Homo sapiens: one gene and its partners. The main gene of each other region encodes a partner of the protein of the gene in region 3 in a complex. Each region holds a gene or a part of one and is shown on either strand. Other genes may lie near its edges.

Evidence for each region. Proteins that work in one complex are often made in the same cells at the same time.
Region 1: RNF113A (region 3) and GPKOW share a complex: the UniProt entries of both Homo sapiens proteins name them as parts of the minor spliceosome.
Region 2: RNF113A (region 3) and CRIPT share a complex: the UniProt entries of both Homo sapiens proteins name them as parts of the minor spliceosome.

What each region holds. Positions count from the first base shown.
Region 1 is NC_000023.11:49,120,711-49,127,670, reverse strand, and holds the start of GPKOW (G-patch domain and KOW motifs-containing protein), read left to right. Parts: upstream 1-3,935; 5' UTR 3,936-3,948; coding exon 3,949-4,124; intron 4,125-4,894; coding exon 4,895-5,049; intron 5,050-5,148; coding exon 5,149-5,273; intron 5,274-6,960. UniProt on the Homo sapiens protein: RNA-binding protein involved in pre-mRNA splicing. As a component of the minor spliceosome, involved in the splicing of U12-type introns in pre-mRNAs.
Region 2 is NC_000002.12:46,627,202-46,630,701, forward strand, and holds the end of CRIPT (cysteine-rich PDZ-binding protein), read left to right. Parts: 3' UTR 1-2,975; downstream 2,976-3,500. UniProt on the Homo sapiens protein: As a component of the minor spliceosome, involved in the splicing of U12-type introns in pre-mRNAs. Involved in the cytoskeletal anchoring of DLG4 in excitatory synapses.
Region 3 is NC_000023.11:119,869,951-119,875,968, forward strand, and holds RNF113A (E3 ubiquitin-protein ligase RNF113A), read right to left. Parts: upstream 1,784-6,018; 5' UTR 1,664-1,783; coding exon 632-1,663; 3' UTR 525-631; downstream 1-524. Other genes in the region: NDUFA1 (NADH dehydrogenase [ubiquinone] 1 alpha subcomplex subunit 1), read left to right, coding at 1,962-2,063, 3,354-3,443. UniProt on the Homo sapiens protein: Required for pre-mRNA splicing as component of the spliceosome. As a component of the minor spliceosome, involved in the splicing of U12-type introns in pre-mRNAs. E3 ubiquitin-protein ligase that catalyzes the transfer of ubiquitin onto target proteins.

The DNA of each region.
Region 1 (6,960 bases), about 71 Mb from region 3:
ATTTCATTCAATTTTATATTTTTTTCTTTTCTTTTCTTTTATTTATTTATTTATTTATTTATTTGAGAGGGAGTTTAGCTCTGTCACCCAGGCTGGAGTCCAGTGGCACAATCTCAGCTCACCACAACCCCTGCCTCCTGGGTTCAAGCGATGCTCCTGCCTCAGCCTCCCGAGTAACTGGGATTATCGGTAACCACTACCACACATGGCTAATTTTTTATTTTTAGTACAGATGGGGTTTCACCATGTTGGCCAGGCTGGTCTCGAACTCCCGACCTCAGAGGATCTGCCTGCCTCAGCCTCCCAAAGCGCTGGGATTATAGGCATGAGCCACCGTGCCCAGTCCATTTAATTATATTTATAGCAGCTGGTCATGCAGTGACTCACGCCTGTAATCTCAGCACTTTGGGAGGCCAAGGCAGTCGGATTACCTGAGGTGAGGAGTTTGAGACTAACCTGGCCAACATGGCAAAATCCCACCTCTACTGAAAATAGAAAAATTAGCCCAGCGTTGTGTCAGGCACCTCTAATCCCAGCTACTCAGGAGGCTGAGGCACGAGAATCGCTTGAACCTGGGAGGTGGAGGTTGCAGTGAGCCGAAATCACACCACTACACTCCAGCCTGGGCAACAGAGTGAGACCCTGTCTCAAAAAAAATATATATGTATATATATATATATTTTATATATATATATTTATTTACAACTTCCAATGTAAAGGCGTATTTCTTTCATCCAAGGTGTGTGCTGTAATTCATTTACTGCATCCCCTTCTGTTGATAATTTAAGTGGTCTTCAAGCTTTTGCCACAATAATATGATAATGAATCTCATAAAAAATTATTTTACACATCTTCAATGATATCCTTGAGCCTAATTTGTAGCAGAATTATATTACTCTTTCTTAAGAATATTTAAGTATCTGTCATCTACTGTACAAACTATTTTATTTTTATTTTACTTATTTACTTTTTTAGAGGCAGGATCTTGCTCTGTCACACAAGCTATAGTGCAGTGCCACGATCATAGCTCACTGTATCCACCAACTCCTGGCCTCAAGTAATCCTCCTGCCTCAGCCTCCCATAGTGCTGAAAGTACAGGTGTGAGCCACCACACCCAGCAACTCTGTATAAGCCACTCTGTATAAACTCTTTTTTTTTTTCATTTTAAATTTTTTTTCATTTTCTAAGGCAGAGTTTCACTCTGTCGCCCAAGCTGGAGTGCAATGACGTGATCTCGGCTCACTGCAACCTCCACCTCCCGGGTTCAAGCGATTCTCATGCCTCAGCCTCCTGAGTAGCTGGAACCACAGGCGCCTGCCACCATGCCCGGCCAATTTTTGTATGTTTAGTAGAGACAGAGTTTTGCCATGTTTGCCAGGTTGGTCTTGAACTCCTGGCCTCAAGTGATCCACCTGCCTCGGCTTCTCAGAGTGCTGGGATTACAGGCATGAACCACCGCACCCTGCCTGTATGAACTCTTGAGGTCCTACACAAGAGAGATCTGTCTCAATAATCTTTTTTTTTTTTAATTTTCTGACTGCTTCATTTTTCCTTCATATCAGTAATCTTTGAAGCCTTAGGACCTGGTTCTCACAATATGTTTAATGTTGCTATATGTATATGTGTGTGTGTTGCCCAGGCTGTAGTGCTGTGGCCTGATCACCGCTCAGTGCATCCTCAACCTCCTGGGCTGAAGTGATCCTCCCCCCTCAGCCCTCTGAGTAGCTGGGTCCACAGATGTGCGCCACCACACCCCATTAATTTTTAAATTTTTTTGTAGAGTCAGGGTGTCACTAGGTTGCCCAGGGTGGTCTCAAAGTCCTGAGCTCAAACAATCCTCCTGCCTAGGCCTCCCAAAGTGCTGGGATTATAGGCGTGAGCCACTAAGCTCGGCACATGTTGCTATATTTTTAAAATATGTATTTAAATGTCTGTATTCCCTACTAGACTACAAGTTTCTTTTTTTTCTTTTTCTTTTCTTTTTCTTTTTTTTTTTTTTTGAGACAGAGTCTCGCTCTGTTGCCCAGGCTGGAGTGCAGTGGGGCAATCTTGGCTCACTGCAACTTCCACCTACTAGGTTCAAGCGATTCTCCTGCCTCCACCTCCCGAGTAGCTGGGATTACAAGCATGTGCCACCACACCCGGCTAATTTTTGTATTTTTAGTGGAGATTGGGTTTTGCCATGTTGGCCAGGCTGGTCTCAAACTCTTGACCTCAGGTGGTCCGCCCGCCTAGGTCTCCCAAAGTGCTGGGATTACAGGCATGAGCCACTGTGCCCAGCCTATTTTATTGATATTTGAATCTAGTGCCTTGTTGAGTATTAAAATCTGACATCAGTAGGCACTATTCTTTTTCTTTTTTTTTTTTTTTTTTTTTTGTTTTTCTTTTGTTTTTCTTTTGTTTTTGAGACTGAGTGTCACTCTATAGCCCAGGCCGGAGTGTTGAGATCTCGGCTCACTGTAACCTCCGCCTCCCGGGTTCAAGCGATTCTCCTGCCTCAACCTCCCGAGTAGCTGGGATTACAGGCATGCGCCACCACACCCCGCTAATTTTTGTATTTTCAGTAGAGACGGGGTTTCACCATGTTGGCCAGGCTGGTCTCGAACTACTGGCCTCAAGTGATCCGCCCGCCTCGGCCTCCTAAAGTGCTGGGATTACGGGTATGAGCCTGGCCAATAGGCACTATTTCTTTCTTTCTTTCTTTTTTCTTTTTTAAGACGGAGTCTCGCTCTGTCGCCCAGGCTGGAGTGCAGTGGCAGGATCTCGGCTCACTGCAAACTCTGTCTCCCGGATTCAAGCAATCCTCCTGTCTCAGCCTCCCAAGTAGCTGGGGATACAGGCGCCACCACCACGCCCGGCTAATTTTTGTATTTTTAGTAGAGACAGGGTTTCACCATATGAGTCAGGCTGGTCTCAAAGTCCTGACCTCAGGTGATCCACCAGCCTCGGCCTCCCAAAATGCTGGGATTACAGGCATGAGCCACCACACCCCTCTAATTTTTGTATTTTCAGTAGAGACGGGGTTTTTTATGTCTATTATTTATTTTATGTCTATTATTTATTATTGTACACAACTGACGCTCCATCCCCCCCACCCCCGACCTTTTTCTTTTTTAGAGATGGGGTCTCGCTCTGTCACCCAGGCTGGAATGCAGTGGTGCGATAAGAGCTAAGTGCAGCCTCGAATTCCCAGGCCTCAGGCCATCCTCCTGCCTCAGCCTGCGGAGTAAATGGAACTACAGGTGCGCGCCACCACACCCAGCTGATTATTTCTAAATGATTTACTTCATCAACACTTCCCACATAAGTAGGGCACACATTAGGCGCTCCATAAATACTTGTCAAACGCCTACACGAAGGAAGATTAATGTCTGGCAAGAATGAATCCACCTTCCACCATGCCTACCCCGCTAAAAACTACATTTCCAGCCAGGCGTGGTGGCTCACACCTGTAATCCCAGCACTGTGGGAGGCCGAGGCAGGAGAATCACGAGGTCAGGAAATCGAGACCATCCTGGCTAACACGGTGAAACCCCGTCTCTACTAAAAATACAAAAATTAGCCAGGCGTGGTGGCGCATGCCTTTAGTCTCAGCTACTCGGGAGGCTGAGGCAGGAGAATCGCTTGAACCTGGGAGGCGGAGGTTGCAGTGAGCCGAGATCACGCCACTGCACTCCAGCCTGTGAAACAGAGCGAGACTCCATCTTAAAAAACAAAACAAAACAAACAAAAAAAAAACTACATTTCCCTGGGCGCTTGGCGCGACGCGCTCCCACCACGTTTGAAAGAGCGACAATTACTTCCCACGGCCCCTTACCGCCCCCTCCCGCCGGTGCCACAGTGGTTGATGGGAAGGTAGTTTTTACGCACTTTGGCCGGCCCCTAGCGATCTGAACCCAAACTAAATTTCCCAGCAAGCAGCGCGCCGGCCTGGGAAAAGGAGCAAGATGGCTGACTCCAAAGAGGGTGTTTTGCCGCTGACGGCTGCTTCCACTGCCCCAATTTCATTCGGCTTCACTCGCACGTCCGCACGGAGGCGGCTGGCCGACTCGGGAGACGGCGCGGGGCCATCTCCGGAGGAGAAGGATTTCTTGAAAACCGTGGAAGGGAGGGAGCTGCAGAGGTGACGCGCCGGGTCTTTCACCCCTTGGAAATCTCTGCGGTGGGCGTAAGCGGGAGGGAGGAATCTCAGTTGTTTGTCTTGGTGACAGTGACCTGTTAAGCCTGAAGCACAGCCTGAGTAAATTCGTGGAGGCCAGAAGGCGGGAGTTTATAGGAGGGGGTGAGGAAATTGGGCCTGATAGCTGTGGGAATTGCGAAGAGAGGATGTATTACTGAGAAGAAGTGTCTTTAGGACTTGAAGACACTAAGGTCTGTGCGTTCTGGGAGAAGGAAAGAATGAGAAAATGACAGGACCTGCTAGTGTCTCAACTGAAGGGCTGAGGCGTCCCCGATATGGGGAACGGGATGGAGCGGCAGATTCAGGTTGATGGAGGCCACCATCAGCTTAATGAGGAGAGGAGTGTCTGAGGGGTCTGAGGGAGGGATTTCCAGAAGAGAATCAGGCATCTAGGAAGCTGTTTGGGAACCTGGAGCTGGGGAAGGTCTGGGCTGAAGATAGTGATTTGTGGGCCATTGTAGAAGCCGGTATTGAGTTAAACAGAGAGTGCAGGACTTATTTCTCGAAGGCACTGACATTTATGAGTTGGGGGCACTGGGGAGATAATCCAGAGAATGCACGATCAGAGAGGAACAGGAGATCCAGACATGGAGTAGGGAAGACATGGTCTGTGGGGCTGGGGTGAGTTTGGCTCTTGTGTTTTCTCTGAATGAAGGAGTGTGACCCACTGACCCTGCCATTCTCCCAACCCCACCCCTCTGTGTCCACATCAGTGTGAAGCCCCAGGAGGCCCCCAAGGAACTCGTCATCCCTTTGATCCAGAATGGCCATCGCAGGCAGCCACCAGCCCGGCCCCCTGGGCCATCCACAGATACTGGGGCCTTGGCGGATGGGGTGGTGTCCCAGGCTGTGAAGGAGCTCATTGCGGGTGAGTGATACCCCTTTACCCTTCCCCATTGAAGGAAGAAGAGGAAGAAGGTGGAAGGATAGAGTGGGACTTCATTGCTCCCTCCTATTCTTCCTTTAGAATCCAAGAAGTCTCTGGAAGAGAGAGAGAATGCGGGTGTCGACCCCACGCTCGCTATCCCCATGATCCAGAAAGGATGCACCCCCAGCGGGGAAGGGGCAGACAGCGAACCCCGGGCAGAGACAGTGAGCTGGCCCCTTGTCCCCCTCCTGCCCCAGCCTTTCTTTGCCCTGTCCGCCAGGCTGTGTCCCTGCACGTAGCAGGGAAAGTCTGTGTGTGTGCTAGAGGCCCGCCACCTGCCCCTTCTCCTGTCATCATTTTGGAAGCATTACCAAATGAATCTGGGTATCTGGATGCTAAAAACGTACTTGAATCCTAGGATTATCTGAATGAGGTGTGCAGCAAAGGGAACAGGAAATGTAAAGGCCCTGAAGGTAGACACTGCCTAAAGTGTTTGCGGAACACCAAGGAGACCAGTGTGACTGAAGTGGAATGAGTAAGGGGAAGGGGTAGTAGACGAAGTCAGAAAGGAGATGGGGGTGCTAGACCAGGCAGGGCCTTGTAGGCCATTGTGAGGACTTTGGCTTTTACTCTGAGTGAGATGAGAGCCTGGACAAGCCCTGAGCATAGATGAAATATGATTTATGATTTGACAGTATCCCTCTGGAAGCTGTGAACAGACTCATTAGTGAAGGTGGAAGCAAGGGGATGAGTAGTCCAGGCTAGAGATGCTGGGGACTTAGACCAGAGTGGTCTGGAAGGATAAGTAGGGTTTAGTGAGAGAGGGAAGAACAGAGTGAGTACTCCTGTTAGTAGTAACAGCCCAAGCAATGGCATAGTGGTAGAAAATCGATATGGTGTGTCCATCAGTGAGGCAACATGTGGTGTATCTGGAGTGAATGGGAAGGAGTGATGATGGGAGGTGACAAGAGGGGACGTGAGAGGCATGTCTACAGAAGTAACCAAGTCTGTCTTTCATACCCACAGACCTGACTTTTCACCTCTTCTTTCATAAATTTCTTGCACTGCTTCTTTTGAGTCTAGTTCTTCTACAGCCCCACACCACTCTCTCTTTCAACTGAACTGTTCTCTTCAGCCTTCAGATGTGCCCTGGTTTCCTTCAACATTTTTTTGTTTGTTTGTTTTTTGTTTTTTGAGATAGAGTCTTGCCCTGTCGCCCAGGCTGGAGTGAAGTGGTGTGATCTCGGCTCACTGCAACCTCCCGGTCCTGGGATCAAGCGATTCTCCTGCCTCAGCCTCCCAAGTAGCTGGGATTACAGACACGTGTCACTACCGCCTGGCTAATTTTTGTATTTTTAGTAGAGACGAGGTTTCGCCACGTTGGTCAGGCTGGCCTTGAACTCCTGACCTCAAGTGATCTACCCACCTCAGCCTCCCAAAGTGCTGGGATTACCGGCGTGAGCCACTGTGCCCAGCTCCTTCATCTTTAAAGAAAAAAAAGATCCTCACTTCCCTCTTCATCCTTTCATCCTGTTCCAGCTTTGGCCTCATTCTTCTAATTTTTCCCTCTATAAACCTCCTCCTGCAGCTTTCTACATATCAGGTGACCAAAAATTCCATCCATCCTTCCTCTCACTCAGCATAAAAACCTTGGAGTCAGCCAGGGGCGGTGGCTCACGCCTGTAATCCCAACACTTTGAGAGGCTGAGGCCAGCGGATCACCTGAGGTCAGGAGTTCAAGACCAGCCTGGCCAACATGGCGAAACCCCATCACTAGTAAAAATACAAAAATTAGCTGGGCATGGTGGCACGTGCCTGTAATCACAGCTACTCGGGAGGCTGAGGCAGGAGAATCGCTTGAACCCAGGAGACTGAGGTTGCAGTGAGCTGAGATCATGCAACTGCACTCCA
Region 2 (3,500 bases), on a different chromosome or scaffold from region 3:
CAGATGCACAGTTTGTGAATATTCTCTCCCATTCTGTAGGTTGTCTGTTTACTGTATTGATAGTTCCTTTTGCGGTGCAGAAGCTCTTTAGTTTGATTAGGTTCCACTTGTCAATTTTTGTTTTTGTTGCAATTGCTTTTGAGGACTTAGCCGTAAGTTCTTTCCCATAGCTGATGTCCAGATGTTATTTCGTAGGTTTTCTTCTAGGACTCTTATAGCTTGAAGTCTTACATTTAAATCTTTTTTTTTTTTTTTCCCCAAAGACAGAGTCTCCTTCTGTTGCCCAGGCTGGAGTACAGTGGTACAATCTTGGCTCACCACAACCTCCACCTCCCAGGCTCAAGCGATTCTCATGCCTCAGCCTCCCAACCTAACTGGGATTACAGGCACATGCCACCACGCCTGGCTAATTTTTCTATTTTTAGTAGGAATGGGGTTTTACCATGTTGGCCAGGCTGGTCTTGAATTCCGAGCCTCAAGTGATCCACCCACCTCAGTCTCCCAAAGTGCTGGGATTACAGGCATGAGCCACTGCACCCGGCCCCTTATATTTAAATCTTTAATCTATCTTGAGGTAATTTTATATATATGGTGAAAGGGGTCCAGTTTGAGTCTTCTGCATATGGCTAGACAGCTGTTCCAGCACCATTTATTGAATTAGGGAATCCTTTCTCTGTTGCTTATTTTTGTTAACTTTGTCAAAGGTCAGATGGCTGTAGGTGTGTAGCTTTATTTCTGTCTGTTCCATTCCATTGGTCTATGGGTCTGTTTTTATATCTGTACCATGCTGTTTTGGTTACTGTAGCTTCCTTATAGTATAGTTTAACTCAGGTAATGTGATACCTCAGCTTTGTTTTATTTGCTTAGGATTGATTTTTTGGTTCCATATGAATTTTAGAATGGATTTTTTCTTTTTTTTTTTTTTTGAGACGGAGTCTTGCTGTGTCTCCCAGGCTCTGAGTGCAGCTGTGCAATCTCAGCTCACTGCAACCTCTGCCTCCTGAGTTCAAGCAATTCTCCTGCCTCAGCCTCCCAAATAGCTGGGATTACAGGAGCCCGCCAACCATGCCCAGCTAATTTATGTAATTTTAGTAGAGATGGGGTTTCATCATCTTAGCCAGGCTGGTCTTGAACTCCTGACGTTGTGATCCACCCGCCTCAGCCTCCCAAAGTGCTGGGATTACAGGCGTGAGCCACTGGACCCGGCAGGATTTTTCTAATTCTGTGAAAAATGATGTTTGTAGTTTGATAGGAATAGCATTGAATCTGTGGATTGCTTTGGGCAGTATGGCCATTTTAATGATATTGATTCTTCTAGCTCATGAGCTTGGAATGTTTTTCCATTTGTTTGTGTCATCTCTGATTTCTTTCAGCGTGTTTTGTAGTTCTTGTCCAGCTCACATTTTATCTTCATACTTTGAGTAGCCTCCTTCCATGAATGGATCATCCAGTGGCCGCACTTAGGTTCTCCTATGAAGATTTTTGTTGTATTGTACCTCAGAACCATCTCCATATTCTCTAAATAATAATAATGATGGTCATAAATTGAATAGAAGTATTTACTAGATGAGGAGGAAAACCCTAAAACAAAACATGAACATAAAATATTTTTAAAAGGAAGACATACAAACAGACACTATAACCAAATAAGATGACAGAATTAAGGCCTTATGCCACAGCCAGAGTTGAAAAATGCAGAAAAAAAGTTTAAAAACAAGGAATTAAAGCCAAACCTAACTTTTATCAAAATAAATGTAAAAGTGATGAAAGAATCTGTTAAGATATCAGATTGTAATATAAAAGATACTAGAAACAAATGCCAATAGAACACTTAAGTACATTTTATATATTCATCCATTAGAATATATAGCTGTCAGAATGATAGAAGAATTACATATGTGTGCAAAAGTTTTTGTATCCATGTGGAAAACACAGGAAGCTAATAGTACTGTTTTTCTCTGGAGTGGGTGTAAGGGTAGAGACTTAACTCTTTACATCCTTATGGCAGCCTTCGAATACCTTTTAACTCCCAGTTCCCTTAACTGGGGGTGTGTATCCTAGAATCCTCGACCCATTAGAAAGTATATTGTAGACATCATACTCTTTACCCTTTAACACTACACATGCACTTCATAAGAACAAGCATGCTGTCTTACCCAAGTACAGCTATCAAGTTCAGAAATTTAACATTGCCATAATACTTTACAGTCCATATTTCAATTTCATTTGCTGTTTTATTGGTAATTTTTTTCAGCTCCACGATCCAGCCTAGGATCATATGTTGTATTGCCATAACCCTCTAATCTGGAGCAGTTCCTCAGCTTTTCTTTGTTTTTTATAATAGTAATATATTTGAAAAATACAGGACAGCTAAAGGATAGAGTATCCTTCTATTTGGGTTTTTCTGATGTTTCCTCATGGTTAGATTGGGGTAGTGCAGTGAGGGTTGAAATGCTGTAAGTGATATGTATTGCAGGTATACATCCAGATGCACAGAATGTCCATTTGTCCCTTATTGGTGATGCTAATTTTGATCACTTGGGTAAGATGTCCAGTTTCTCCAGTGTATCGTTATTGTTTTTCCTTTTGCAATTAGTGGGTAATTTGTGAGGAGAAACTTTGAGACCTTGTTGACAATTCTGTTCCTCATCAAATCTACCCCTCCTAGGTTTAGCATCCTTTGACGATTCTTGTCTGAATAAATTTTTACTAGGATGTTTCCAAAATTGTGATTGTTCTAACTCTATTATTATTTCTGTATTAATTAGTCATCATTCTACTGTAAGGAAGAGGTTTCCCTTTATCATCAACTTCGAGTAAGTACTTTTTTCTGAGCCATTTGAATATTCCTTACTAGATGTGGTGCCTCTTTACCCCAATTACTTAAGTTTGTATTTCCAAAGAACAAGGGTGTTTTCCTGCATAGCCATAGCACAATTACCAAAATCAGAAAATTAACATTAATACTTTACTATTATCAAATCTTTTTCATATTTTGCTAATTGTTTCAGTAATATGCAAAAAAAAAAAAAAGTCTGATCTGGATCCACTCTGGAGTAACATTACATTTAGTTGTCATGTCTGTAGTCTCATTTATTCTGGAGCAGTTCTTCAGCCAGTCTTTCAAAATGCCAAGGTTATGGGCCAGTTGTATTTTTTTTTTTAATTTCAACTTTTATTTTAGACTCAGGGAGTATATGTGCAAGTTTGTTACATGGGTATATTGCGTGATGCTGAGGTTTGGGGCACCATTGATCCCGACACCCAGGTAGTGAGCATAGTACCCAATAGGTAGTTTTCCAACCCTTGCACCTTCCCTCCCTCCCTCCTCTAGTAGTCCTCAGTGTCTATTGTTCCCAACCCGTAGACTTTTTATAGAGTAACTCTTAATCTGGGTTTTTCTGGTATTTCTTGATGATTAGACTGAGCTTATACATTTTTGGCGGGGATACCACAGAAATGGCATTGTTCTTTTCAGTGCACCGTATCATGGTGTCAGT
Region 3 (6,018 bases):
TGCGCCTGTAGTCTCAGCTACGCGGGAGGCTGAGGCAGGGGAATCGCTTGAACCGGGGAGGCGGAGGTTGCAGTGAGCTGAGATCGCGCCACTGCACTCTAGCCTGGGCAAGAGAGCGAGACTCCGTCTCAAAAACAAATAAATAAATAAATAACCAAGACAGCAAGGAACATTTCCCATATGTGAAGCCTGTGGTGCTAGCTACCAGTTCCCCAAACACAACCCCTCTCCCCAACACCTTGGCTCGGGTATATTTTGTAGTACAGGCTCCCAAGAGAAAGAATGCATGAAAGTACTTTGTAAACTATTAAGTGATACAGAAATGTGATATAATAAACAGGCTCAGAGGTCTTGCTTTCATCATGGCTTTGGTTACTTCGAGCAAATTATAGCTCTTTTCTCAAACTACTCCCACCCCTATAATTTATGCCAAAGTGTTCTGAAAAGAAACACAGGCAAAATGGTTATCCTAGGGCTAAAAATCCTGATTATACCTACCTTGAAGCTTTTAATCCAGGACCCTACTTCACCACCCGCCTGCTCTGTCACTTTCTCTACAAAGGAAGGACACGAAGTAAGACTTCCAAAAGAACAAAACGTTTATTTTTTAAATTTAAGAATTATGGGAAACCTAAGTAATGGGAATTGCATCCTCATCGGGGTCTTCTGGCAAGTCGGAAGCACCACCCTCTCCTGTAGCTCGATGCTTCTCTAGTTTAGCAATCAATTCTTTCGCTGGATTGAAGACGCCATTGGTCTGCTGGTCACAGACATAGCAGCGCGGGGTGGTGCGGAAATGCTGCAGTGCACAGCTCTCGCAGAAATAATGCCTGCACTTGGTGACAACTGGGTTTTGGAAGCTCTGGCGACAGATGAAACACTTGAATGGTATTTCCTCATCATCGCTTCCCACTTCATAGTTTTCATCCTCATAGACACCATAGCGACCCTCATCAAGCTCACGTTCGATCTGCCACCCATGCTTGTAATCTGAACGGTCATGGAGGAATTTGCAGCTGTCTCCGAAGCCGCAGAAGCCAGTCTCTTTGTAGTCCTTACAGATGTCGGGCTGGTAATCCCAGCGCACGGTGGCACGTAGATGCTCGGGCGCTCGGATGGGGCCCTTCCTCACCATCCCGGAAGAGGCATTGCCCATAGACGTATCCTTGGGCTTCATGTATTTCTGATAATTGTTGATTCCCCGATAGATCTTGTCATCCTCCTTGCCCCTCAGCTCCTCCTGGATCTTCTGGCTGCGCTCAAAGATGGCTTGTGCATCGCGCTCTTTCTCTGTGTCCAGCTCATAGACAGCTGTCGCTCCCATATCCTCTGGTCCCACGGGTTTCGCCGAACGGGTGGATTTATAAACCACGCCGAGACTCTCGGGCTCATTTTCCTCTTCCTCTTCGCTGCTCAAGTCGCCGTAAGCCGCCTTCTGTTTACCACTGTCACGGGTCTTCTGTATCATTGGATTGTGGGTCACCCGCTTCTTTTCCGGTCGAACCACAGTGCAGCCTTCGTCGCTACTGCTGCCGCTTTCTCCGGGCTCTGGGTCGCAGGCCGGGCGCTTTCTGCGTCCAGCAGCCCCTTTCCGCCCAGGCTTTTTGAAAAGGAAGGTGCACACCTGATCCACCGCCTTTCCTGGAGAAAGCTGCTCTGCCATTTTAGAGTCCTGAGCTCCGAAACAGCCGTGGCTGCCTGGGTTGCACTTGGCCCCTGCACGTCACTCCACGTTGCGCGCTCCGCCGGGAGTCGAAGCAAAAGACACTGACGGAAGAGGACTGCGAGAGCCCGAGCGCCCGTCTCTCTTGTGCCCTAGCAGATTCCGTCGCTTCTTCCGGAGCCGTACGTGGCACCGCCCCGCTCGCGGGCGGCCGCGGGGCTTGCTGGGAAGAGAGGCGAAGCCAGGTCACCTTTCAAGGACCCAGAAGTAGGGTTTTGGCCTAGGTAACGGGGCAGAGATGTGGTTCGAGATTCTCCCCGGACTCTCCGTCATGGGCGTGTGCTTGTTGATTCCAGGACTGGCTACTGCGTACATCCACAGGTTCACTAACGGGGGCAAGGTAAGCCGGCTTCGGCCCGGGGGCCGACTCCACGGGCTGATTTCCGAAAAGGGTGGTGGGCAGGGAGACCGTCAGCCTGCGAACCCTCTCTCCGAGGTCGGCCCTCTACTTGCTTCCGGTTGCCTAGAAGCCGAGGCTTGCGAAACGAAGCCCGATAGAAACTACATCCTGCTCTAGTGAAAAACAGCGTTTCTGGGTGTATCAGAGTGGGCCTTAGGGCAGAGTAGCGACGCGGGGGCCGGGAAGGTAGATTAGAAAAGGTGGCTCAAGCCTGAGAATCGCTCACTGCAACCTCCGCCTTCTGGGTTCAAGAGATTCTCCTGGTTGGGCGCGGTGGATCACGCCTGTAATCCCAGCACTTTGGGAGACCGAGGCGAGCGGATCACCTGAGGTCGGGAGTTCGATACCAGCCTGACCAACATGGAGAAACCCCGTCTCTCCTAAAAATACAAAATTAGCTGGGCGTGGTGGCGCATGCCTGTAATCCCAGCTACTCGGGAGGCTGAGGCAGGAGAATCACTTGAACCCAGGAGGCGGAGGTTGCGATGAGCCGAGATCGCGCCACTGCACTCCAGCCTGGGCAACAAGAGCGAAACTCCGTCTCAAAAAAAAATAAATAAAGAAAGAAATTTTCCTGCTTCAGCCTCCCGAGTAGCCGGGACCACGCCTGGCTTTTTTTTTTTTTTTGTAGAGGCGGGGTTTCATCATGTTGGCGAGGCTGGTCTCGAACTTCTGACCTCGGTTGATCCACCCGCCTTGATCTCCCAAAGTGCTGGGATTACAGGCGTGAGCCGCCGCGACCGGCCACCCTTGACTTTTTTATTCCCCACTTTCTCTTGCAAGCCTTTAGGAATTTACTGCGAGATCTTGTTTTTTTACATCAGGATTCATTTTCCCCTCTTCCTAGTCCTTCACATCATCTCAAGAGTACAGGATATAAATTTATTTACTTTTTGATTTTGTTATTGTTCTTCACGTGTGATCTACAGCTGTTGTTTCTTAGTGTCCCAAAAGACAACAACTAGATATTTCTTTTTTTTTTTTTTTAAAAAAAAAGGAAAAAAAATTCATGTTGGTTAAAATAGTGTAAAAAGTCACAGGTACCAACTTAATCCTAAAGTTTAGTGGTCTGATTTTATTTAGGAGATTCTGTTCTTTGTACTACTAATTTGCATTTTTATTTAAACGATGATTCCATTTCTCTGGAATGTCCCTTTTAAAAATTGTAGTATCTATCAATTGGGTCACTCACTTTTATAAACTGCAACAATAATTGTCTCTTATTTGAAGGAAAAAAGGGTTGCTCATTTTGGGTATCACTGGAGTCTGATGGAAAGAGATAGGCGCATCTCTGGAGTTGATCGTTACTATGTGTCAAAGGTAAGATGCCACTCTGATGCCAGCCTTTTGCCAGGGTTGAGGTGGGTTCTGGTAATGCCTTGCCAAGGGTCATACAGTGCTAATATATAACTAGCATTTTCTTATCTACTAGTGAGGTTGGCATCTTTTTACATATTTAATCTTTTATATTTCTTTTTTTTTTTTAGTTTTTCTTCTGTCATATATTTCTTATTCTGTGGATTGTTGCCTATATCCTTTGCCTGTTCCATTGTCTTTTTCTTTTTGAGCTATGGTTCTTTATATATTCTAGACTTTAATTTTTTTGTCTATTTTATATATGACATTTTTCCCAGTCTGCTGTTTGTCTTTTTTACTTTATGATGTTTTTCATCAGGTAGTTCTAAATTTTGATATTCAATGTATCATGTTTTGTTGTTCTGGATTCTAGGTTTTTATGTCTCCCGTACAAAGGCCTTTTCTATCTAAGATTATAAAAATACTTTCAAAAAATAAAATAGAGACAGTCTTGCTGTGTTGCCCAGGCTGGCCCTCAAACTCATAGGCTCAAGTGATCTTCTTGCCTCAGCCTTCGGAGGAGCTGGGACTGCAGGTGTGCCACTATACCTGGCTCATAAAAATACTTTTAAAAAATAATTTCTCCTAATATTGTTAGTTTCTTTAAAAAATTAGTTATTTGGTTACATCTACAGGTCATTTTGGAGTATAATGTGAAAGGAGGATTAACTTTACTTTTTTCCAACAGGTAGCTAGTTATCGCAATTACCCATTTATAGAAGAGTTTAGTAGTCCTAGCTACTCAGAAGGCTGAGGCAGGAGGACAGCTTGAGCCCAGGGGTTTGAGGCTCCAGTGAACTAGGATCGTACCACTGCACTCCAGCCCGGGCGAGAGAATGAGAGCCTGTCTCAAAAAAAAAAAAAAAAAAAACCACCAAGCACCCAATTTATTTTTATTTGTAATACCACTCTGGTAAACTAAATTTCCATGTACACATGGGCCTGTTTCACGGATGTGCTTTTCTATACTCTAGGTCTGCCTATTCCTGCAACAATACTTCATTTAAAGAATTACTATAATTTTATATTTTGATTCAATTATGACATTGCCATTTTTGTAGGTCAAAAACGACCAAGCAGTAGCATTTCATAAGGCTCAACTTAATAGTATATTTTTTGTTTTTCTGTCTTTTTTTTTGTTTTTTGAGACAAGGTCTCACGCTGTCACTCAGTCTGGAGTGCAGTGGTGCAATCTTGGCTCACTGCAACCCCCGCCTCCCGGGTTCAAGCGATTCTTGTGCCTCAGCCTCCTGAGTAGCTGGGATTACAGGCACCTGCCACCATGCCCAGCTAAATTTTTTTTTGTACTTTTTGGTAGAGATGGAGTTTCACCATGTTGGCCAGGCTGGTTTCCTAACTCCTGACCTCAAGTGATCCGCCCACCTCAACCTCCCAAAGTGTTAGGATTACAGGCGTGAGCCCCTACTCCTGGCCCTAATAGTATGTTTTTATATTTTGTAGGAGTAGTTCATTCTCATACTTCTTTTAAAAATGTTTACTTTTTAATATTTTCTCCTTCCTCATTTATTCCTCACAACAAACCTAAGTAAATAGTATTTCCATTTTATAGACAAGGGTCAGAGTGATTAAGTAATATTATAAGGACTCAACCTGGGTGATACACCTCTCAGTAGAGAGGTAGTTGAGAATCTAATCCAATGAACATGATAATAGATATCTACTTATCTGGAGCCATATTTCTCAAAGTATGGTCCAAGAATAACCATCAGAATCACCTAGCATGTGAGACAGAATTAGGATTTCTAAGAGATGGCTCCAAGGAAGATACAGTTTTAACTTCTCTTAAGGCAGTTCTTCCTGTAATAGTAAACCAAATACCTGGACTATGTTATTTAATACCTAGAAGAAGTGTCATCACTGATGAGTCTTTTTTTTTTTTTTTTTTTTTTTTTGAGACGGAGTCTTGCTCTGTCGCCTAGGCCGGAGTGCAGTGGAATGATCTTGGCTCACTGCAAGCTCCACCCACCAGGTTCAAGCAATTCTCCTGCCTCAGCCTCACGAGTAGCTGGGATTACAGGTGCGCTGTAATTTTTGTACTTTTAGTAGAGACAGGGTTTCACCATCTTGGCCAGGCTGATCTTGAACTCCTGACCTCATGATCCACCCACCTCGGCCTCCCAAAGTGCTGGGATTACAGGCGTGAGCCACCACGCCAGGTGTAATCTTTTAATTTATAGCTTCTGAAGTATTTGGTTGTCAACTTAGTAAGATCCAGTAGGTATTTTGAATAGATAGTGTAGTGCTTGTCAGAGAAGGGTTCGGGAGTTGGGGTCCCTGAATTCTGGCTCTGCTAATTCCTTATGGACTTAAGCAGGTGACTTTTAACCTCTCTGAGCCTCCATTTCCTCATTTGTAAAAAAAATGGAATGAGAATAATAGTATCTACCTCATGTTGGCTGTTATTTTTTAAAACAGATTTTACCTTCTTGTCCTCTGACTCACTGAGGTGCTTTGTAAAAGGATCCAGGTGGAGGCCAGGCATAGTGGCTCACACCTGTAATCCTAGCACTTTGGGAGG